Linked DNA regions of Homo sapiens. The protein of the gene in region 2 interacts with the protein of the main gene of each other region in a biochemical or structural test. Each region holds a gene or a part of one and is shown on either strand. Other genes may lie near its edges.

Evidence for each region.
Region 1: the proteins of KDM5A (region 2) and RBPJ form a complex in vitro, tested with the Homo sapiens proteins (one study listed by BioGRID).

Annotation. Positions count from the first base shown.
Region 1 is NC_000004.12:26,322,677-26,335,340, reverse strand, and holds part of RBPJ (recombining binding protein suppressor of hairless), read right to left. Parts: exon of another isoform or gene 12,453-12,664; coding exon of another isoform or gene 12,391-12,452; intron 1-12,390. UniProt on the Homo sapiens protein: Transcriptional regulator that plays a central role in Notch signaling, a signaling pathway involved in cell-cell communication that regulates a broad spectrum of cell-fate determinations.
Region 2 is NC_000012.12:382,918-395,442, forward strand, and holds the start of KDM5A (lysine-specific demethylase 5A), read right to left. Parts: upstream 6,404-12,525; 5' UTR 6,175-6,403; coding exon 6,010-6,174; intron 3,058-6,009; coding exon 2,980-3,057; intron 1,237-2,979; coding exon 1,114-1,236; intron 1-1,113. UniProt on the Homo sapiens protein: Histone demethylase that specifically demethylates 'Lys-4' of histone H3, thereby playing a central role in histone code. Does not demethylate histone H3 'Lys-9', H3 'Lys-27', H3 'Lys-36', H3 'Lys-79' or H4 'Lys-20'.

The DNA.
Region 1 (12,664 bases), on a different chromosome or scaffold from region 2:
GCGTGGTGGTACACGCCTGTAGTCCCAGCTACTCAGGAGGCTGAGGCAGGAGAATCACTTGAACCCAGGAGGCGGAGGTTCCAGTGAGCCGAGATCACGCCACTGCACTCCAGCCTGGGTGACAGAGCAAAACTTCATCTCGAAAACAATAATAATAATAATAAGAAAATAAGAAAAACTGATAGTGGGAGGAAATAAGGAAGTTACTGAAGTTAACGTTTACCTGTGGCAGCCAGATGGACAACAGCACTATAACAGATATCAAGTCTATTTTATAGGATGGTATCACAGATACAGGTGGTAAAAAGAACAAGTTGTTTTGGAAAAGGCAAGTTTAATGAGCCTGCAGAACAACCAGTAGGAATTTTTAAAATGCGAATCTAAACATCCACACTAATGACACAGACATAAAGTCAAAGAATACAGCAAGAGGAAGACAAAAACTGCAAATCACAATACTTAAGATTGGAAGAGAAGTAGCAAAGAGAAGATGGAATAATCAAGAAGTGGAGATAGTAGCTTGTTAGTCAAGAATAAAGACATAACATAACAAAACAAAACACAAGATGCAGAAAAATGAAATAGGCTGATGACTGAAATGAGGTTTGGGGGTCTGGTAAAAGGAGGTTATTTACTGATGGCCTGGGGTGAAAATCAGGTTTTAATATGTAAGCATAAGGGAAAATAAAAACAAGACCAAGTCAAGAGATGAATAAAAGGCATGGCAGTAGCTTGAGTTAAGAAAGGAAACGGACGTTAAGCAATCCTTATAGACCAGGCCTAGTCTTGCAGCCCCTTTGCATACACACGTTTGATCCTCAGAAGAATTCTCATGTATGCTCTCCTTTGTACAAAAGGGAAAACTTAAGTTGCAATGCAATTAAGTAACTTGCCCAAGGCCACACAGGATGTATACAGAATTTAAAAACCTAAAAATTGGTCTGTAGGCAAAAAAGGAATATTAGAAAAAAAAAAAGAAAATACAAAGCAGAAAAGTTGGGCCAGGCATGGTGACTCATTCCTGTAATCCCAGCACCTTGGAAGGCCAAGGCAGGCAGATCAACTTGAGGTCAGGAGTTCGAAACCAACCTGGCCAACGTGGTGAAACTCCACCTCTACTAAAAATACAAAAATTAGCTGGGCATTGTGGTGGGCGCCTATAATCCCAGCTACTCGGGAGGCTGAGGCAGAAGAACTGCTTGAACCTGGGAGGCAGAGGTTGCAGTGAGCCAGGATAGCATCACTGCGCTCCAGCCTGGGCGACGGAGCGAGACTCCATCAAAAAAAAAAAAAGAAAAGGCAGAAAAGTTGGATTAACTGATAGAACAACATCCCAGGGATGCCCTGACAAAATTATTTTAAAAATTATGTCCGAGCCATGTACAGTGGCTCACAACTATAATTCCAGCACTTTGGGAGGCCAAGGCAGAAGGATCGCTTGAGCCCAGGTGTTGGAGACCCTGTCTCTACAATAAAAATAAAAATTAGGCAGGCATGGTAGTGCAAGCCTGTAGTCCCAGCTACTTGGCAGGCTGAGGCAGGAGGATCACTTGAGCCTGGGAGGTCGAGGCTACAGTGAGCTGTGATTTTGCCACTGTATTCCAGCCTGGGTGACACAGTAAGATCCTATCCCAAGAAATAAATAAAATTAAGCCAGGCACAATGATGCATGCCTGTAATCTCAGGTACTCAGGAGGATGAGGCAGGAAGAATGCTTGAGCCCAAAATTTCCAAGTCTGCCTGGGTAACAGAGTGAGACGTCCATCTCAAAAAAAAAATTTTTTTTAATTTAAAAAACTTTTTAAAAATGAAATACAAAATTTTTACCTAAAGATACATTACGCTACTTCAGAGAAACTTTGAGCCCAAAGACTAGTCTAATCAAGTGTAACTTTAAAAATAAGTTTATTTCCTGGAAATTCATTTAAAGTAATCTAATAGATAGAGATACCACTTCCCTCACATTGTAGTTGAGGACTGAGTAGATATTCAACAAAGTGTTAGCTCCCTGGCACCTTTAATATTATGTTTGCAAAACTACTGAAATTTTTAAAATAGAATCGAATGTCAGCGTTTCCATTTCTTTAAATTAAGAAATATATCGTTGTTCCTTGGTATCCGCAGGGGATTGCTTGCAGGATCCTCCCATACATCAAAATCCACACATACTCAAGACCGGCAGTCAGCTCTCCATATACACTATTCTTGCATCCCATGAATACTGTATTTTCCATCCAAGTTTGGAGGAAAAAAATCCACATATAAGTGGACCCACTCAGTTCAAATCTGTGTTGTTCAAGGGTCAAAGGTACTCCCAATTGTTAACAGTGATTATTTCCTGGTATAAGACTATAGTGGCTCACTTTACACAATATACTTAAGTAACTTTTGAGGCCAGGCATGGTGGCTCATGCTGGTAATCCCAGTGCTTTGGGAGGCCAAAGTGGGAGGATCACCAGAGACCAGCAGTTTGAAACCAGCCTGGGCATCACAGTGAGAGACTCCGTCTCTACAAAAAATACAAAAATTAGCCAAGACTGGTGGCGAGTGTCTGTAGCCCTAGCTACCTGGGAGGCTGACATGGAAGGATTGAGTCCAGGAGTTTCAGGCTTCAGTGGGATATGATGGCACCACTGCACTCCAGTCTGGGTAGCAAAGCGAGACCCTGTCTCAAGAAGTAAATAAATAACTTCTGAATTTCTTATAACAAACATTACTTTTCCAACAAGAAAAATAATCAAGATGATTATTTTATACAGATGTGAAATCAATTAATTTCTAAGAAAAATTTCCATATCAAGATGGTCATTTCCCTGAAATAACTATGAAAACAAGCTAAAAATTAAATAAATGCCTTTTAAATTACATTAGAATTTAAACAAAAATGTATATGGTAGCTTAGGTGGACAGCTGATTTATTTGTATTTAATTATTTAAGCAACTGACAATTTCCAGGACTTAGGGTACCTAAGAAACTGCTGTTTAAGTAAATGACATGTCAGTAAATCCTGTGTGCAAAGTGTACATATCACATTGAATACATGGGAGGAAGGCCAGGACAAAGAATGGCTTACTTACCAATAATTATGAAATAACCTCTGAAAGGTCTTTTTTTTTTTAACATTACAATAGTGACATGGCAACTCCCATTAATTAGTAATATCCATTTAATCAAATAATGACACTCATTATTATAAGCTGTAAGTAAATTACCATATACTATCACTTCTATCTTGGGAATGCTGAAATTAATTCACTTCCTTGACATGTGGATAAGCATGGATGACAGATACAACAGACTTAATGAATCCCATAGTCAAGAGAATAATATTGCCTTGGCATATACACTAGAAAAAATTCACTACACACATCATCATCATGTTCATAAACCAGATCATCTTTCAGTATAAAATTTCAAGTTGTAGCCTCTCTTCTCTGTATGACAGCCTTCTTTCTTTTCACTCTCCTCTGTCCTTCCATCTTCCCTTCCAGAGGCTGTGGAAACAGCCAGCTGCAATTTATTGCAGGTGGCATAACCAAGAAGCTAGAGAGAAAAGAGGCAGAGACTGGAGTAAGCCAGAGGTAACTGCGTCCAGCCAGTTCTCGAGTAGGAGCAACTGAAGCAGAGTGGATAAGGAGGTGTGCAGTGAGGAGGACAACTATGTTCCTGAAGAGGCCACCTGGTCAGTTAGAAATACAAGACAAAGATCATAAGCAGCACCAAAAACAGGAACACAGCAAACGAGGAAAGAGCAGGCAGGCTCCGAGCTGACCATTTAATGAAGCAACACTGGCCGCCGCACTCTACCCATCAAGGCTTGGGTGCTGAGGGATTTACAGTCTTGCTCTAAGTCTGCACATATGAGAAAAAGGGCTATTTTTTAAAAATGCATGTAACATTAAAAGGCAGCTGAGTGAGATAAATAGAAAGGTATGGGAAAAAAAAAAACATAACGTTGGGTACAGGGGTTCACACTTGTAATCCCAGCACTTTGGAAGGCTGAGGCCGGCAGATCCCTTAAGCCCAGAAGTTTAAGATCAGCCTGGGCAACATGGAAAACTCCGTCTCTACAAAACCCAGCTAGGCATGGTGGCGTGCACCTAGTCCCAACTACTCAGGAAGCTCAAGTGGGATGATTACGAGCTCGGGAGATTGAGGCTGCAGTGAGCCATGACAGCACCACTGCATTCTAGCCTACGTGACAGCAAACCCTGTTTCAAAAACAAAAGACTAACACAGGCCTTCCCCTCCCCCTAAAACAAACCAGGAACTAGCTCAGTCACTGAATGTGTCTCAGCCATTATCTAACCTGTCTGTGTAAATGAATGGGTACTTTTAGAATATATGATTAGTAAGGTCTTCTCTGGCTCTAAAATTTCCTGAATCTAATGGATTTAATAATATATATCACACGTGTCACACAGGATGTAGTTACCTTTCTATGTTATGTAAGTTACCATTAGATGGTATGTTACTTCTCAATAGGAAGAGTACAATACAAATAAGAGCACACAGAATCATAGCCTAGCATCAGTACACACCACGCTTCATCATCGTTCATCAAATCCTCTGAGAAACAAATCCTCACAATATCTTCCTTTAAAGCAATTTACGCAGTCATAACAACAAAAAACAATGCCTAAAATCAAACCATCATGCCTCACTTTAAGCACATTGAGAGATGGGGAAATGTGCTTTGTTCACTTGTGAATTTCATTGAGCTTCCATTCTGCTTCTTTCTACAGGACATATTCTAAAGGCATTACACTTTTCTAATTTTCAACAGTCTAAATGAGTTTTCTATATGATATGTGTTTCATATTCCACTTCAAAAAATATAGGTACAGAAAAGGCAAAAAAGTGAATATAATCCGGGGGTCAGTTTCTACGTGGGTTTCTAGGTAGAAAAACCTATCTATGCTGAATGTCAGCTTTATCAAGACCAAGAGCCACCTAGTGGCAAGTGTTATATATTACCAAATCTGCTCAAGCCATATTCATCCAGCAAATAACATTCTGGCAGATGGTAGGTGCTCCACAATTGTGCAAGGTAAGTAAAATAATTGCTCCTTTTCTTATGAAGCTCACTGACAGATTAAACAATCAATTACAGATAAATTTATATAATTGCAGAACAATGTTAAGTGTAACAGAAGTATGCAAAAATAAGCATCCAGCATTTATTAAAGACCTACAATAAGCACAACACTTTGTTAAAAAGGTTCTCTTGTATCTGTTCACCTTACTCAGAACTTTCCCTTTTCTGATTATTTTATCACCAGGTTTTAATTTCAGGTTTTTTCCTACCCTCCCTTCTGAAGGGGGTGTACCCCACTCCCATCTTACCCTTTAAATTCCACACTTCAGAAAAGGGGTAAGGAGAACCTATTTATTGAGCACCTACTATTACCAGAACCAAGCTAGGCATTTTCTTTTTTTTTTTTTGGAGACAGAGTCTCACTCTGTCGCCCAGGCTGGAGTGCAGTGGCGTGATCTCGGCTCACTGCACGCTCCGCCTCCCGGGTTCATGCCATTCTCCTGCCTCAGCCTCCCAAGTAGCTGTGACTACAGGCGCCTGCCAACACGCCCAGCTAATTTTTTGTATTTTTAGTAGAGACAGGGTTTCACCGTGTTAGCCAGGATGGTCTCGATTTCCTGACCTCGTGATCCGCCCGCCTCGGCCTCCCAAAGTGCTGGGATTACAAGCGTGAGCCACCGCGCCCAGCCGGCCCAGTAGGCATTTTCTATCTCTTATTAATCCTCACATCAATACCATGAGGTATTATTTTCTTCCATTTTTTAGACAAAGGAAAAGACCTAGCTTAAGTGAAATGCTCATAGCCACAAACTTATTTTAGTGACTTACAGTACAATTATTCCCAAGTTCCCTACATCACCCTGCCTCAAAAAGAGCTTCTTGGCCTATTCATTCCTAGGCCCACCACCAAAATCAGATTTTGATTATATTTCTCTTATGGTGTCCACCAATTCCAATCTATTTTACACTGTTTACATCCAGCCCTACCTCATCTTAAAACCCTCAATGCCGCCAGGAACGGTGGCTCATGCCTGTAATCCTAGCACTTTGGGAGTCTGAGGCGGGTGGATCACCTGAGGTCAGGAGTTCGAGACCAGTCTCACCAACATGGAGAAACCCCGTCTCTACTGAAAATACAAAATTAGCTGAAAGTGGTGGCGCATGCCTGTAACCCCAACTACTCGGGAGGCTGAAGCAGGAGAATCATTTGAACCCGGGAGGCATATGTTGCGGTGAGCCAAGATCGCACCATTGCACTCCAGCCTGGGCAACAGAGCAAAACTCCGTCAAAACAAACAAACAAACAAAAACCTCAATACCTTACCCTTGTCCTCTGTATCCCTGATTAATATTCAAATAATCACCTTAGGCCATCCATAATCACACCACATTGGGAGACCAAGGCAGAAGGATCACTTGAGCCCGGGAGCTCTGGACCAGCCTGGAAAACATAGCAAGGCTGTCTGTACAAAAAAAATGTTTTAAATTAGCTGGGGTTGCTGGCGCACACCTGGGTTTGGTGGCACACACCTATAGTCCTAGCAACTGGGGAGGGTGAGGCAGGAGGATCCCTTGAGCCCAGGAGGTTGAGGCTGCAGTGAAGTACGACTTTGCCACTGTATTCCAGGCTGAGCAACAGAGCAATGAGACTGTCTCTAAAAAACACCAACCAGCCAAAAAACCAAATAATCAGGTTAGCACTCAAGGTCTTCCAAGAGGCTCCCAATTACTTTTCCAGCTTAATTTCCCATCACTCCCTATCAACTCTCACCTTTTCTATGAACTCCAAATGAAGATAATCATTTACATCTGTGTTCCCACCAACACTAAATATCGGTTACAGCACTTACCATAATCTCCCTTACACAATAATTACCTGTGTACACTCTACCAAGTCATGAGCTTCACCAAACCATTTCTTAGCCATCTTTATAGGACCAGCACAAAGAGTGTCTTATACCTAATAAGTGTTCAACTGCTTATTTAATAAATATATTGTTATTAAAACAATACTAAAAGGAGAGCCACTAAAGCATGGTTATACTATTAACATTTTCCTTAACACCCCTCCTACATGTCTTAGGACCCCAGTGTTTCTGCTTACTCCAAATGGTGTATGGATTAGGAGCTTTGTACAGATCTAGGTAATTTTTTGCATGAAAAATGTTATCAAATTAAAAAAAAAAAAAGATGTGAAAAAACATGCTGGCAAAATCAGGCACAATCTTTGCAGATCTGCAGTTTTCCAAAAGGGAACATATACCTTTGTTCTATTTATGCAAACCAGTCTAAAGCTAGTTTGTACTGGAGGAAATTAAGCTATGTCCATAATAGACTGTTCACATTATTTTAAAAAAACTACAATATTACATTTATATTTCATAAAGCAATACTGTACTTCTATAACACAATATCATACTTATAAAAAAGTTTTATAGAGTGAAAAACTTTTTTTTTGAGACAGGGTCTTTCTCTGTCACCCAGGCTGGAGTACAGTGGCATGATCACCATTCGTTGCAGCCTCAAACTCCTGGGCTCAGGCCATCCTCCTACCTCAGCCTCCCAAAGTGCTGGGATTACAGGCCTGAGCTACTACTGCGCCCAACATTAAATATTTTTTCTCCTGTTATGTAAACTTTTTATGAGAAACTACTCTTATCACTTACAACTCTGATTATCATCTCATTAACAATGCACAGATAATCATTAGCTCTTAGGCTAAGACTACTGAATACAAAAAAAAAAAAAAAAAAAAAAAACCTCCAGGGTCAACTTGATTCTCTAGTGTATTCTGCTTCACATCAAATAGATGCAGTTTTCATTGCAAGGCTTTTGCAACTCAGAATGCATTAAAAAAATGTGTTTTCTATATTTTATTTTTTGTAAACTTAAAATAGTATAAATATTCCCAAGATTGCCGTAAACTTCACCAATATGACTGAAAAGCTCTCAAACTTACCATTATGCATTGTCTCAACACAACAAAATTACACAAATATCTATACGGATAGGTAATTACTACCACTTACAGTGCCTGTGACGCCTTCCCCAACCTCCTACAGTAAATATGACATGTTCGGAAATACATTACCCTTTTTAGACCATTAGGGTATCATTTAATTCCCTTAAGCAGCAGGTCTAATGAGGCATAAGCAACACCATGATGTTGTGCCAGGCCTAAGAGGCATACAGAACTGTGGGCAGGATAAGAGTCTGAGAGATAGTAGCAGCTAGACATTCAACATTCCTACATTGTTACAGCTGCCCAAGCAGAGAAGAGAGCAGTAAGAAATAGACCCCAAAAAGCTGGGGGTGACTCAATGACAACATTCGTGGTCAAGCAGTAATTTAACAAATATGTCTGCTTAAAATGCCAAAGCACATATTTCAAGGGTTGCGGTCCTCTGCACCAAATACATTGCTGCCTTCCTAAAACATGACCCACAAAACCACAGCTTGCAGTATAAAAAGTCCATCTTGAGCCCTGCTCAAGATGAAAGGTTACCAGAGGAAACTGATTCTTATAGTAATTAAAATATTTGTATAGAACGCTTTACTGTTTACAAGTCACTTACACATACACTGTTTCATTTGACCTTATTTCACAAAATTTACCTTATTTGACAGTCACAATGTGCCTGACAGATAAAATATAATTATCATCCCCTATTTTATAGAGGTAGAACCTGAAGCTTAAAGAAATTATCTGTCAGTAATATGTCCATGAGACCTGAGTCTCCATGTAAATTATCAACTTATTATTTGGTTCTATGGCATGGATTCCCCAAAAAGCAGTCTACAGTGTTCTACGGTTTAATCTAACATACATCCCTAGCCATCTAGTACTGAAAACAGTTAAAAATAATGGAATCTTTTGATAAACACTGACAGCCAATCATATAAAAAACAAAAGTGAAATTTAAACTTGTCAGTTTTATACAAATATAATGTAGTATTTTCTAATAATCAAAAAAAAAAACTTTTGCCTAAGAGCCTTACTATAATGTTCTCAGGGGCTATGAGATTGCTTGTGGCTGAAAATATCAATTCCTCTGGGTACTTCAGCAATTACTCCTTACAGAACCAAAGTCAAATACCTATATATAAATTATACATATATATGAATTAGACACACATATACTGTATACACACAAGCACACACACAATTTTAAAATTGTGCCACATGAACCATGTTGCACCAAGATTTCAAAGCACTGAGTCCTATGTTCAAAAATTCTTTTTGCTGAGTCTCTATCATGTGATAGACAATCTTCTAAGTATAAGAATATAAATGATACCTGCCACCAAGTGACAATATTTGGGTGTGATAATTACAACTTAGTATCATGCTTCCAAGAGAATTATATACAGCATTTAATACTGTATTAAATATACAGTATTTATACAGCCAGGCACCAACTGTAGTCTGGTAGATCTGGTTAGAATATTCCCTTAGTCTTGAGAAATAACCTACTAAGGATCATTACTTTTCATACACAAGAACGCATTAAACTGCTGGGCTCATGCAGAGATGTCAAAATACTTTAATATGACTGAAGCACTGATTATGGAGAGAAAATGGCAAACAACTCAGCTGGAGAAGAGACAGATGAAATAGTTATGGAGGATCCTATGCGCCACAGTAGCTAACATCTTTTGAGCACTTGCTACATGCCAGGAATTCTGCTAAATGCTTTCATACATTATCTCATTTAATCTTCACAACAACTTTCTGAGTTAGGAATAATTATCTTGCAATTGATAAAGAGATTAACTTGTCAATGTTACAGGGGTTTTAACTGGCAGGGGTTTTAAGTGCCAGAGACAGAATTGGAACCCAGTTCAGATTAAACACTAAATGTGAGCTCATAACCCTCCACTCTGTTGCCTCTCTTAATGAACGCTGCTAGGGGGAGCCATTGAAAGGTTTTTAGATTAAGCAGTGATCAGATTTGCTCTTTAGAAAGACTGCTCTGCTACATGTAGAAGCTGGATAAAGGTGGTGACTCTAGAAGCAGAAAGAGGCTGTCAGTACGTCATAGTAAACCAGGTGAGAAATGACAGCATGAACTTCGGCAGTGAGGATAAGGGAAACAAATTCAAGAGATTTTTTAGAAGGAAAAATGATCAGTTCTCAGTAATTAAATGTAAAGGCTGGTGAGAGAGGAATTAGGAATCGTGGCTTTGGGAACCAAACGGAATATGGTATCATCTACCAAGAACAGAGAAGCAACAGGTTTCATTCAGTCAATACGTATCTACAGAGTGCTCCTCAAATGCAAAACACTTTTCTAAGGCCAAGAGTCAAATCTGAAATTATAGTCATGGTTATTAGAATTTATTCTTAAGAGCAAATAACAAAGCACTAAAAAATATAAGGCATATTTAAAATTAATCACTGCTATTAACAGACTTGGCTTAGAGTCCAGTGAAAGCATGTTGTACTACCATTTGTTAAATATTACTACATGCAGGCCAGGCATGGTGGCTCACCCCTGTAATCCCAGTACTTTGGGAGGCCAAGGTGGGCAGATCCCTTGAGGTCAGGAGTTTGAGATCAGCCTGGCCAACATGGCGAAACCCCATGTCTACTAAAAATACAAAATTAGCCAGGTATGATGGTGTACGCTGGTAATCCCAGCTACTCAGGAGGCTAAGGCACGAGGATCGCTTGAACCCAGGAGGTGGAGGTTGCAGTGAGCTAAGATTGTGCCACTGAACTCCAGCCTGGCCACAGAGTGAGACCCTGTCTCAAAAAATAAAATAAAATAAATAAATAGAATATTGCTACATGCAGAAAACAAAAGAGGAAAGGCATCCCATAATTTTATAATGTTATTACATTTGAGTTTGACAGAACTTCAATCTCTTACACCACACACACACACACACACACACACTCACACACGACACATCACCCTGTAATTTGTTTTATTTGTCCCTTTCCCTATAAGTTTATGGGGGGCAGGAATAAAGGTATCTGTTTTATTACCCATATTATAATACATATTTGGGATTTTAAAAAATCCCACTATCGCTACTGTGTCTTGCCAAGAACTTAAAAACCTCCTATTTGACTTCCTATAAAATATGACCTACTTCACATTAGCTTATTTCAGTAACAATTCCTAGACCTTCCCCACAGTTTTCATCCAAGGATGCTCTCTGCGAATCTTAAGGCACAGCAATCCTGTGCAGATGTGGCAAGTTATTATAATTCCCATTTTACTACATAGTTAGGAAACTGGCCCAGGGGAAGTAGAGTAACTTGGAAATAATCACAAAGCCAGATGCCAAAAATAACAACTTTTAGTCAATCCATGAGAAAATACTGCCCCTAGTTGAGATAACATGAAATTTAGTATTAGGAGGAAGCAAAATGCAAAATAATGCTTTAAAGCCAAGTCCTGGGTCTTATTTCTAAAAATGAACAGAAGAATGAGATGTATAATAACTTTCAAACGAAACAATTTTTTCCTAATGCCTTACCCATCAAGGGTGCCAAAGGTTATTTAATGAATTACATCTGGCAAGAATGGCCTGTCAACCAAACCAATTTTGATCTTACCCACTTAAAAAAAACATTGATAGAAATCTGTTGGTATAGGACAACAGATAACTTTTTAACAAACCTAACTGCTTAAAATCTAATGCCTACAAGTGTGTATTAGTACAGATTTGAAAATATTGCAAGTCTCCTGTTTTCTGAAAATATACTCACAGATCCATCAGCAATATGCATGGATAATAAAATTTAAAGCTTTAACAGTTAATACTCAGAATGAAAGTTCTCCAGCCACAACGCATCCAGATTTCGAAATATGCTGCTGTTATAATTTAATTAAAAGCAGTTTTATTTCACCAATCATGTAAGTAAAAGTATTACACGATTTAGAAAGAAAAACGCAACTCAAATGGTAAAAGCGCTTTTATCATGTCTGTGTAATCATTCTTACAGGTACAAGTCAGAGCAAAATACCTTCCATTACTACACAGTATTTACACTTTGCTCCCAGTCAGAGAACCAGTGAGCTCAAGATTTTACCTTCAAAACAATGATTATGTACAAGAACAAGTAAGGGAGACATAAGATTATTGGTAAAACCCACTCAAGCGACCCAGACTGCAGATTTTCACAAAAAAACTTATGTATCAATCATGAAAACATGGTTTTCCATTAATTAAAACTCAAACTACTAATTCTAATCACAGCCAGAAAAAAAAGTATTTTCCAATGCTCCAATACTCGTTAGAGTAGATCTCGTATGTCCCCTATCAACAACACTTCACTATTGTAGAACTTCAGTTTGTAAATGAAATGACACTCCAAATGATTTTATGGGTAACATACCTTCTAAAAGTAGAGATCAACCAGTAGAAAAAAAACAAACTCTTGAAGAATACCTTCAGCATAGTAATCCTGGTAAATATAATAACTCTTATTCCTAGCACCCAGAATAACTCAAGTCATTAGAATACATCACACCACACCCCCCACCCCCATTCACACAACCCCAAGCTTTTAGCATTACCAAAACAATAAGAACTCGAAACACTTCAAGGGTTCTTTAACACTAGGAAGTGTCTTTAAAATAATCTCACTACAGGCTATTACGTGTGTGTGT
Region 2 (12,525 bases):
CAAAACTCCATCTCAAAAAAAAGAGAAAAAAACATATCTCAAGGTTATTATAATCTCAGCTTGCAGGTCAGTTAGTTTTTTTTTTTCACATTAGGGAATATAATGTTAAAAAATTAACACAATTTCAGCAAAAACTTGTCTAAACTCTTCACCCTTAAGTTTCTGAGCTGTTTGGTCATCCTACTGAATAATGATGGCCTCAGTCAGCCATTAACACTACATACACGTATTAACAAAACTAATATATACCACACATAAGAATGCTGAGAAACATGAGTTTCTTTAATATGCCAAATTTTCTCTTTTTTTTTTTTGAGACAGGGTCTAACTCCTGTGGCCAAGGCTGAGGTGCAGTGGCGCAATCACAGCTCACTGCAGCCTTGACTTTCCGGACTCATGTGATCCTCCCACCTTAGCCTCCTGAGTGGTTGAGACTACAGGTGTGCACCACCATGCCCAGTTAGCTTTTCTGTATTTTTAGTAGACATAGGGTTTCACCATGTTGCCTGGGCTAGTCTCTAACTCCTAGGCTCAAGTGATCCTCCCACCTCAACCTCCTAAAGTGCTGGGATTACAGGCATGAGCCACCGTGCCTGGCCCAAATTTTCAATTAAGTAACAAAAAAAAAGATGACAAGCTCAACACAGAACATTGTACACTCAGCACAAGATAACATTAGCAGGCTAGAGTAATTTATTTTGCATATTGTATATCACAGAGCCTGATAAATATTAATATTTAGTAATTAAATATTGATCTCAACAAATATAAAATAAGTTTTAAAGATAACTTTGAGAACTGTCATTTCCATTTATTCAAATGTGCATTTCATTGTCCTTTTTTTTTTTGAGACCGAGTTTTGCTCTTGTTGCCCAGGCTGTAGTACAATGGCGCGATCTCAGCTCACCACAACCTCCGCCTCCTGGGTTCAAGCAATTCTCCTGCCTCAACCTCCCGAGTAGCTGGGATTACAGGCATGCGCCACCATACCCAGCTAGTGCATTTCATTGTCAAACAAATCCTCTATTGGAAGCAATGTTTCCTACCAAATCTATTTGATATTCCTAAATTCACAAGCCTGTGCTCTAATTTCTAAACCAGTATGAGCCTCACCTTGCTCAAAGCATACAGATCCAGGATTTTTCTCTCTACCACAGGGATCTTCAGAGTAGATCCTTGAAGTTCCCAAAATTTTGCTAGTTGATCCAAGAAATCCAATCTCACTCTGGTCATTGCCTAAGATTATTAAAATACAGAAGAACTAAGTTATGATTGAAATGAATAAGAATAACAGAGCAGGGGTCCCCAAACCCCAGGATGTGGACCAGTACCCATCAGCGGCCTGTTAGGAACCCAGCCACACAGCAGGAGGTGAGCAGCGGCAGTGGGCAACCAACCGGGCAAGCATTACCACAAACCCTATTGTGAACTGCGTGTGAGGGATTTAGGTTGTGAGCACCTTTTGAGAATCTAAGTAATGCTTGATGATCTGAGGTGGAACAGTTTCATCCCAAAACCATCCTCCATACCCCCATCCATCCATGGATAAACTGTCTTCCATGAAACCAGTCCTTGGTGCCAAAAAGGTTTGGGACAGCTGTAATAGAGGTACTCATTTCTCTAAAGAAATTCAAAGACTTTTTTTCATTATTGCTTATTTCAACCCTGTAAAACTAGCCAATAGTAAAACTAGCCAATAATAAAGAGGCAAAAGACTTCTAATAAACTATATTTATTCAGGCAAAAAAGTTACTCTGATTTATGTAAAAAGTTGTCATATTAGCAACCAAAACAATTTTTGTAAGTTGGTTTAACTCTATGCTGATCAGAAAATTCAGTAGATCGGATTCTCTTCAGTCTCTAACGTTCTGTCATTTCATCCATATGTAACATGCACACTTTAGGTGCATCAACTCTATACCTCACTGATACTAATATGCTTTGTCAAGTATCTAATTACAAGAGACTAAAAAGAAAAAATATGCATTGCGGCCAGGCGCGGTAGCTCACGCCTGTAATCCCAGCACTTTGGGAGGCCAAGGCGGGCAGATCACCTGAGGTCAGGAGTTCCAGACCAGCCTGGCCAACACGGCAAAACTCCGTCTCTACTAAAAATACAAAAATTAGCTGGGCATGGTCGCTGTAATCCCAGCCACTAGGGAGGCTAAGGCAGGAGAATCGCTTGAACCCGGGAGGTAGAGGTTGCAGTGAGCCGAGATCGCACCACTGCACTCCAGCCTGGGTGACAGAGCAAGACTCTCTGGAAAAAAAAAAAAAAAAAAAGTATGTATTAAACTCTCAGAAATGTTTTGGGGAGAAAAGAAAAAAAACTTCAGAATGACATAATAAACCTTTGCTATCAATAATTTTCCTTCTGTACTCTAAAAGTTTTCATATCACAATGAAGAACCTTCTGAAAACCCATAAACAGAAAAAACAGCAAAACGTACACTTCCATTTAGAAAATTTAAGATAAATTAGTAATACTTAAAGTAATTAAAAAATAATACTTAAAGTAATTAAAAAGTAATACTTAAAATCTTAATAAATCAGATTAACACTCCTGGCAAAGTTCCATTAAAACCAAAACCAAAACCAAACCAAAACAAAACAAACTCTGAAAACTAGGGTTTTAAAATAGGATTTAAAAATCCATTTTCCAAGAACCGAGGGAGAAAGAAATCTTCCAAGATTAACAAAAATTTTAGTAGAGTAAGAAACACTAGAGAAAGTAGAATTTAAGAATTCTAAGTCTCTGAAGCTAAGCATTGAACATTTCTCAGTTAAATGGAAAAACCATAACAACTTTGCACAGTTTTTAAAAAATCATACTCTTCCTCCAAACATCAAGTAACTATTCCATTCAATACCAATTAACACAAACTCTAGGCTGTGGTACATGAGCTTCTCAAAGTTCTCTACCTACAGCCCTAATATAAAGAATGAATCAGGAAGCAGAAATAGTGACAAAACACTTACCTCAAGTTCATTCAGGCGCTGGACTCTTGGAGTGAAACGAAAGCTTTTTACTTCACAGGCAAATGGAGGCTGCCAGTCCTAAATAGAAAGATTTTTTTAAAAAAACACAGTGGTATGTAAACAAGGAATGCATTAATTATTCCCTTAAAGGGGGGTTTTGCCACAAATCATGGTGCTAATAGACTAACTTACAAGTCTTCTTTATTATAGAGACAGAATGAGCAATTCTTTTCGATAAAATAATTTTAATACAGGTTGAGTATCCCTCATCTGAAATGCTTGGAACCAGAAGTGTTTTGGATTTCAGATTTTTCCATATTTTGGAATATCTGCATATACATAATGAGATATCTTGGAGAAAGAACCAAGCCTAAATACAAAATTCTTTTGTTTCATATAAAGTTATACATAGGCTAAGGTAATTTTATGCAATATTTTTAATAATCTGGTGCATAACGCTTGTGTATACTGGACCGTCAGAAAAGAAAGGTGTCAGTAGCTCAGCCACCAGTGTGGACAATTTGTGGTTGTCTGGCATCACCATCATTCCTGACTGTGAATTTACATGCTACCAATAAACAATCATTTCCTTACACTTATTTCCACTTAAGTAGTTAACAGAAAAAATATACCATACCATTAATACAATGAAAAAAATAATCTGTTCAAGCTGGGTGCAGTAGCTCATACCTGTAATCCCAGCACATTGGGAGACTGAGGCAGGAGGATCGCTTGAGCCCAGGAGCTTAAGACCAGCCCAGGCAACAGAGCGAGACCCTATCTCTATAAAAGAAAAAGAAAAAGAATAATTCAGATTTTGGATGATTTCGGATTTGGAATTTTTAAAGTAGGGATGGATGCTCAACCTGTATTGCTCAGAGAAGCAATCCTCTTCAAACCAGTCCCACCGTTTACCTCCCACAATTATGCTTTCCCAAGTTACTCAAGTGGAATTCAATGAGGTCATGTACCACAAAACAGTATCTAGTAAACATTCAGGTTTACCAAGATCAAAAAAAAAAAACTTGTGTTTAAACTAAAAAGGGTAAAATTTAAGATTAAAAAGAAACTTTTAAGAACTTATTTATTTAAACGATTTTTTTTATGTTATGTGTAATGTGACAGAGCACTTTATGTTACACAAATGTTTTGTTCAAAGCCCAGCTTCTGGGAACCCAAATATTCAAAAAACACGCAGAACAAGGACAATTTCCAGACTGTGATATAACTAAAATTAGATAGCATATTTCAAGTGGGGTCTAAATAACATAGTTTGATTTGGCCTAAATAACAGAATAACAGTAAACCTATTTTAAAACGTTGAGTAGTCAAAAAAAAAAAAAAGTCTTACCTTGGAAACTGAAGAAATCTGCCAAAACTAAAATTAAATTCTGATTGTAAACAAGATTTATTTTCAATAATGTGACATAAAGAGAAAGCATTATTTCAGCATTTTTTTAAGTAAAAAAACTTTTTTTAATCAAAGTAACCGTGAATAGAATTTCTAATTAATAAATTCAAGAGTAGATAAAAATATGACTTAGGAAAACCTTCAATGCTTAAGATTTGTTAATATTAGGTAATTATGATAGAAAAAAGGGTTAAATGGAAGTTTTTGGAGGATGGCAATGCGTATCATCATAGCAATTATTTGTTAATCCTCTGCTTGAAATGAGTAGTCTATAACCTTAAACAAAGTCATTCAACATAGTGAGAGCATTACGTCTGTTTCAGAATCAGAAAAACTGATCTAGGTTCAAAATACACTTTGCCACTTGCCCAAGATCACACATTTGGTGTTTTAACTTATCCAGATTAGCCTCATCTGTAAAAGGCGGACTTTATTTACCTGTCAGGGCTTCAAAGATTAAAGCAAACAATCTATAGGTGTTAAATTAGTTCCTCCTCGCTGTCATTTAAGTTTTTAATACGCTGCGGTGCCTATCTCTGTGGTAGTCAGTGGTGACGGCAGATGCTTTTTAAAAAGCAACACTGGTTAACAGTGCTTAATATTTTATCATTACTAATACTAGACAAAACATAAAGCAAAATGCCTTTAACAAGCAACGACTAAAGCAATGGTTCGAAAACCTCAACTTACATGAGAATCATCTGAGACTAGTTGCTAGAAAAGCAGATTCCAGAACTTCCACAACAAGACTAGAGATCTGCATTTAAACAAGCATCCAGTTGACCCTGGTGCAAGTGGTCCAGCAACATCATTTAAAAAGCACTGGTCTAATGAGTAAAGAAAAACACCTTTGACCTTGAGTAATCACTCAACCTCTTGGGGCATTAATCCCCTCCACACAAGGGATAGTATCTGTTTTCCTTACCTCAAAGGTGAGATTATAATTAACCTTATAGGCAAACCTAGTTATCTGCAATAACTGTGATTCTAAAATCGTTGATCTTGAGTTCCCTACGTCAAGAGATTTCAACATTTCCTTCCACCTCCACTATAAACCAATTTTTCCTAAACCTCTAAATTTTAGAATTATTGCTGCTCCTTCTCTTTCCCCGCTAAGACTTTTTCACTGCGGCAATAATTAGTCTGGAGTTCTTGTCTAGTAATACCATCCGGTGAGACTAGAGCTCAGATAACCTTTTCAGAAACCCTAGCCCTGAGATGAGGCCTGCAAATATTTGATCCAACCAGGTCTTGAATAAAGAGATAGCCGACTATCAAACCATAATGAGGATACGTGAGGGAAGAATACGTCACGTCATAATACTGTACTTTAAACACCATATCGGCTAACGAAAGGCTTTAGGCCCACGGCTGAGAGAAAAGTATCAGTTCCCAAGTTCTAGGCGGAAGAGGCCCAAGAGACACCACTTTCTCGCTTTCAGACGTGTCTACATAAGACCACAAAAGAAACCGAGGCAAAAACATCCAGAAACAGGCTCCAGTTGTCTCAAAAGAGAGTACATATGAAACGAGACAAGGATCAGAAAAGTAAAGCTAAACCCAGTGTACGGACTCCCCCATTCTTCCTTCTCCCCCTCTCTCTTCACAGACTGAGGTACCTTGGGCGGCCGAATTTTGCAGATGCCGGTTTTCTCCGCCAAAGGCCGGATGCGGCCGATAAAGCTGAGCGGATCTGTGAACTCCTCCCAACTCGGCTCAAAGACGGGGCACTCTGGCGGTGGCACGAACTCCGCCGCGTAGCCCCCCGGCCCCACGCCCGCCATTGCAACGGCCGGGGGGGGGGGGGGGTCCCCGTGGGGAACCGGTGGAGAAAAGCTGGCTGAAGCCCACTAAGCCCGTTCAAGTCCCCTGACAGAGGCCGAAGCGCATCTTCGCGGACAAGAACCGTTCAACACAGAAACCCCAGAATCGCTTCCTCCTCCCGTTTGTTATTGTTTCTTGCAAGGCTTTTCCACTGAGGTTCAGGACTTTTCCGGAAGTTACCGTGCTGTCAAATCCCTCCGCCCCCTGCAGGAAACGGAATCCTTCCGCAGCTGCACGACGCCTGTGTGTCTGGCCTTTCCTTCTTCTTCTCTTCCCCGGCAGCACAGTGTGGCTGTTTGTCTCCTTGCCCGCCAAAGTTCTGCCCAGTCCAACGACTCCACGCAGCTCGCCCTTGGTAAGGGGTCGGGGAGGGGCACAAGCTCTTCTTTACTAGAGGTACGGATTGAGGGAAGCCGACGGGGCGAGGCGGGGCGAGGCGCAACGAGGCGGGGCGAGGCGCGACGCGACGTGACGCTTTCTTCCGGCGCGGAGGAATGTGTAATGCCCCAGAGGGCAGAGGTTGTGCTTCCGGTGAGGAGGGTCCCTTTCCCTTTTGTGTATCAGTGCACTCGAAAACACGCCGGGCTTAATCTTAAGCACCGCGCCTCACCGCCCGTGCTTCGTAATTTGTTTTAACCTACCCTGCTGCGTTTATAGCAAGTAGCCTTTCCAGCATTTCTCTTTTTTTAGCCCTTTGAATGCAGATATTTTACAGTAATCTCACTCTGCCACTTTATACCCGCCTCTTCTCCATCAAAACAAGTGCAGGTCTAACCCATCCCCTAAATCCTGCCAGCTGGCTTTAGCCACCATCCATGAATTGCTTTTCCTTTTACACAGGACGCAGCAGCTCTCCTGAATTACCAGCCAGTATCGTCTAGCTACCTGCAGGACATCTCACTTTGATAACTCAAAGTACTTTAATTGTTCACTGTTTCTTCAGTGTTCCTGGTTTCCATTAATGACTTCATCTATTCAGTTGCCTGAGCAAAAAAAAAAAAAAAAAAAAAAAATCAAGAAATAATCCTAATTCTTTCTGCTCTCACTTCCCATGTATAATCGTGTGTCTCTCCATCCCCGTTACCAGTATCCTAATTTAAATACTCTTACTGACAACAGCTGATTTCTCCTCTCAAATCCCTCTCCATCCACACGTTGGATTGCTTTGTCTAAAATCCAGAATTCATCTTGTCACTTTTCATCTCCAAACTCAACAACTCCAAACATCTTTTTTAATTGCTGATTTGCTGCTTTGCTCTCCAGCTTCATCTCTCCTGCTTCTCCATATGATCTACAGAAGTTTTTGTGGTGACTTTAGTACACCATGATTTTTCTCACCTCTGAGTAACAAATCAGGGGACTTTGAATAACGCAGATTGCCCTCCATAATGTGAGTAGGCCTTATCCAATCAACTGAAGGCCTGAATAGAACAAAAGACTGACCTTCCATGAGCAAGAAGGAATTTTGCCAGTAGATGGCTCTCAGACTTGAACTGTAGCATCACCTTTTCCCTGGCCTCCAGCCTGCCAACCCACCCTGCAGATTTTGGACTTGGAAGCTCTATAATCAAGTGAGTCAAGTCCTTAAAATAAATATCTTTATAAACACACACACACACACACACACACATCTTATTGGTTCTGTTTCTCTGGAGAACCGTGAATACATCTAGGGTTGGAGGGTTCAAGATGGCCTCACTTACGTGTCTGGCAGTTGGTGCTGGCTATTGGCTGGGAAGTCTTAGTTCTCCACATGGCTTCTCATCTTCTGGTAGATGGAGCTTTTCCACTGCATGGTGGTCTTAGCATTCTAAGAAGATGAGAGTGGAAGCAAAGACCTAAAGCCTAGACTCCAAAATGTACAAGATCACTCCATCATATTCTGTTGGTCAAAGCAAGTCATAAGACCATCCCAGATTCAAGAAGTGGGAAAATTCCAATTTTTTATGAGAAGAGTGACAATGTCACATTACAAAGGGGTGTAGACACAGGACGCTGTGATTCATAATAATTCCATACAATTATTATAATGATTTATGTCCAGGTGCAGTGGCTCACGCCTGTAATCCCAGCACTTTTTGAGGCCAAGGCGGGCAGATCACCTGAGGTCAGGAGTTTGAGACCAGCCTGGCCAACATGGTGAAATCCTGTCTCTATTAAAAATGTACAACAATTAGCCCAGGCGTGGTGGCAGGCGCCTGTAATCCCAGCTATCCAGGAGGCTGAGGCAGGAGAATTGCTTGAACCCAGGAGGTGGAAGTTGTAGTAAGCCGAGATCGTGCCACTGTACTCCAGCCTAGGCAAGAAGAGTGAGACTCTGTCTCCAAAAAAAAAAAAATTTACAACAAAGTCTTTGATTTTTACCACTTAAATCTGGAAAACTATATTATTCGGAAAAAGAAATAATGGAATTCCGAATAAAACAAGCCACTGATAATTCATTTTATTAAACATTCAATTAAATGTAATGGTTTTGCTTTCAAATTAACAGAGCGTGAGAACCTGATAGAACCTCAGTATAAGCACAAATCCTTAAAAGCTTTGATTGGTCCTATTTATTTCCTGTTATTTTCTTCAGATTATACTTACCTATTTTATTTTAAACTGTCTCTCTAGTAGAATAGAAAATGTATAATGATTCTCAATCATTTTTATTTGCCACAGTACTTCTGAGAAATCTGTAGTGGTTGCTTACAACAGCAGGAAGTCTGTAAGAGAAGACAGTGAATAGAAGGGCAGCAAATATTAACATCTCTGGTGCGAACAGAAGAAACTTCTGTAGTTACAACCACCTCACATTCTGATGCTTCCCTCAGGGGGGGCACATGAACCCCACTCCCACCTCTCATGCTTACCCCTTTGAAAATCACTGTTGTAAAAATCCAAATTGTGTTTCATCAGCTTCTATGAGGGCATTCTGCACACACAATGTTAAACTGAGTCAATAGTATTTGGGTTTCTGGTCAGAACAGTGGAGTATAACTGTAGTTTAAAAGGATCATTTGCATTACTTAAACAATCCTTGACAGTAACTTTTCAGAAAAAAAAAAATTAGAGTATTATTTATCTGAAATTTATTATCCTGAGTGTTAAAATAGACTAAAATGAATACTTAGATCTGATAATCATTTGGCTAGACCGTGGTCCCTGGATTTTTAAAAAATGCAATAAAACCTCACAAAATCAGATTAATTAGGGTTAGTTTCAGAGAGGGAAAAGTCAAAATTACTGAATTCTTAAACAAATGTCATTTTAATTCAAGAATAATTTCCACCAGTGATTCTCAAACTGTTTTGGTGTCAGGACGCCTTTACTCTTAAAAATTATTGAGGCCAGGCACGGTGGCTCATACCTGTAATCCCAGCACTTTGGGAGGCCGAGGCGGGCAGATCACTTGAGGTTAGGAGTTCGAGACCAGCCTGGCCAACATGGAGAAACCGCATCTCTACTAAAAAATACAAAACTTAGCCGGGCGTAGTGGTGGGCACCTGTAATCCCAGCTACTTAGGAGGCTGAGGCAGGAGAATCGCTTGAACCTGGGTGGCGGAGGTTGCAGTGAGCCAAGATGGTGCCACTGTACTCCAGCCTGGGCAACAGAGTAAGACTCTGTCTCACAAAAAAAAAAATTATTGAGAACCCCCAAAGTTCTTGTTTATATGCATAATACATATTGATGTTTACTATATTAGAAATTAAACCTAAGATGTTTAAAATATTTTATTCATTTCAATATAAAACTTTTATATTTAAATACATTTTAAAAATAATAACTATATTTTCCAAAACAAAAAAATCTGGTGAGAAGAGTGGCATTGGTTTACATTTTTTGTACTTTTTTTTTTAACATTTGGCTTAGCAGGATCGAGCTGGATTATCATATCTGTTTCTCCAACCCGTTACAATATGTTCTTTTGGTTGGAATATATGAAGAAAAACCAGCACCACACAAATATGTAGTTGGGAAAGGAAGAGCATTTTATTTATTTTTTAATTTTTATTTTCTTAGACACAGGGTGTCACTCCGTTGCCCAGTTGGAGTGCAGTGGCACAACCCCAGCTTACTCCAACTCTTGGGCTCAGGCAATCCTCCTGCCTCAGCCTCCCAAGTAGCTAGGACCACAGGTGTGCATCGTTATGCCCAGCTAATTAAAAAAAATTTTTTTGTAGACATGGGATCTTGCTATGTTGCCCAGACTGATCTCAAACTCCTGGGCTCAGGGATCCTCCCACCTCGGCCCCCCAAAGTGCTGCGATTACAGGCATGAGCCACCATACGTAGTGCAGAGAAGCATTTTAATAACCTTCTCAGATGACTGTAATTTCTTAAAGGCTAACAATTTGGAATCTAAAACTTTATCAGTTAACTTTTTTACACTGTTACATTAAAATGGTAGTCAATCTTGTCCTTTTTTTTTTTTTGAGACAGAGTCTCGCCCTTCCCCCAGGCTGGAGTGCAATGGTGCGATCTCAGCTCATTGCAACCTCTGCCTCCTGGGTTCAAGCAATTCTCCTGCCTCAGCCTCCTGAGTAGCTGCGATTACAGGCACCCACCACCACACTCAGCTAATTTTTGTATTTTTAGTAGAGACGGAGTTTTGCCATTTTGGCCAGGCTGGTCTCGAATTCCTGGCCTCAGGTGATCCACCTGCCTCGGCCTCCCAATGTGCTAGGATTACAGGCGTGAGCCACTGCGTCCAGCCAATCTTGTCCTTGAATGGACTTTTTTACCCAGTCATGCTTTTGTAACATCATGCATTGGTCATTTAGAAAATACTGGTTCACTGAGTTATACGGCTTTTCCTAATGTTGACATGTATTATTATATAATATCAAAAAAATTTACAAAAATATCACCATCAATTTATCAGGCAATTGGGAAGTTGTCAAACTCATGATGACAGAAACAAGTTTTCCAAAATTATAATTTTCACTTGAAAGCTCAAATTTTATTATTGCCAACAAATACCATTAGTTGTTTTCATTGAAGAGATTGACTCACTTTGTTCATTTTCAAGAAAAGATCTGCCGTATCTAAGTCTGAACAACCATAGTTTGTCTGTTAGTCCTTCTGGTGTTCTGTGAAAAAAGTGGCTAGTTGAGCTGGTATTATTTCCTCGAGAAAACCCTCTGTATGCAACTGAGTGCGTTATGTGTTCTTCTTACTTCATCGCACAGACAAAAGACATATTTAAAGGTCCAGATTTATCACAGTTAATAATTTTTACTCCTTTATGAAGGGCATTCTTAAATGACACTGGCTTTCCCCAGTGAAATCTATGTAATGAAGGCAAAGACTCCAAGTATGGTTTGGTGTCACTACCATGATTCATGCTGAGGGACCAGCGTTTTACCCACTGTTGCTTTTGTACCATCCATGCAAATGTCAAAGTGAACATGGCAAATAGCATCTTAGTATTACCACGGTCAATGCTGCTCTTGTTTAGGCCCTTTCTCTCATACGAATTTCCACTGTGGCATTCCAATGACCTTCAAGCATTGTTCTTGTTTGATCCTTTGCCACCAGTGTGATTTTTAAAAATTATCTATTTGATGTTGTGTGATTGCGAGAGAGTGATGAATTGGAGAATGACTCTTTGGCATTGTAATGAATGATGATGCATTAATTTAGATATAGAATGGAAGAAAAGCAATCTAATGGGGGGAGGCAGCACACCTGTAGGGAGGAGGATTATACATGCATTCAACATTTATTCCACATCTCTATGTGCCAGGCACTCTTCCAGATGCTGGATATATGACAGTGAACAACAAAAAAAGACAAAGTATCGGCTCTCATACAGCTCACTAGTAGAAAGGGAAGACAAAAGAATAAGCACAAGCTAATAAATATATACTATTTTAGTGATGATAAGATTTTTTTAAAGTGGAGAAAGTAAGGGGGCTTGGGTGATCATCAAAGGGCTCACAGATTGGTGACATTTGTTTTTTGTTCTTAGTTTTCTGAGGCACGGTTTCATTCTGTCTCACTTAGGTTGGAGTGCAATGGCATTATCTTGGCTCACTGTAACCTCAAACTTCTGGGCTGAAGCGATCCTCCTCCCTCAGCCTCCTGAGTAGCTAGGACTACAGGTGTGTGCCACCACGTCTGGGTAATTTTGTTTTATTTTTCTATTTTCTATAGAGAGAGGGTCTGGCTGTATTTCCCAGGTTGGTTTCAAACTACTAAGCTCAAGCAATCCTATTGCCTTGGCCTCCCGAAGTGCTGGAATTACAGGCATGAGCCACTGCACCCAGCCAGATTGGTGACATTTGAATAGAGGCTACTTTATAAAAATAAAAGGACAAATTGC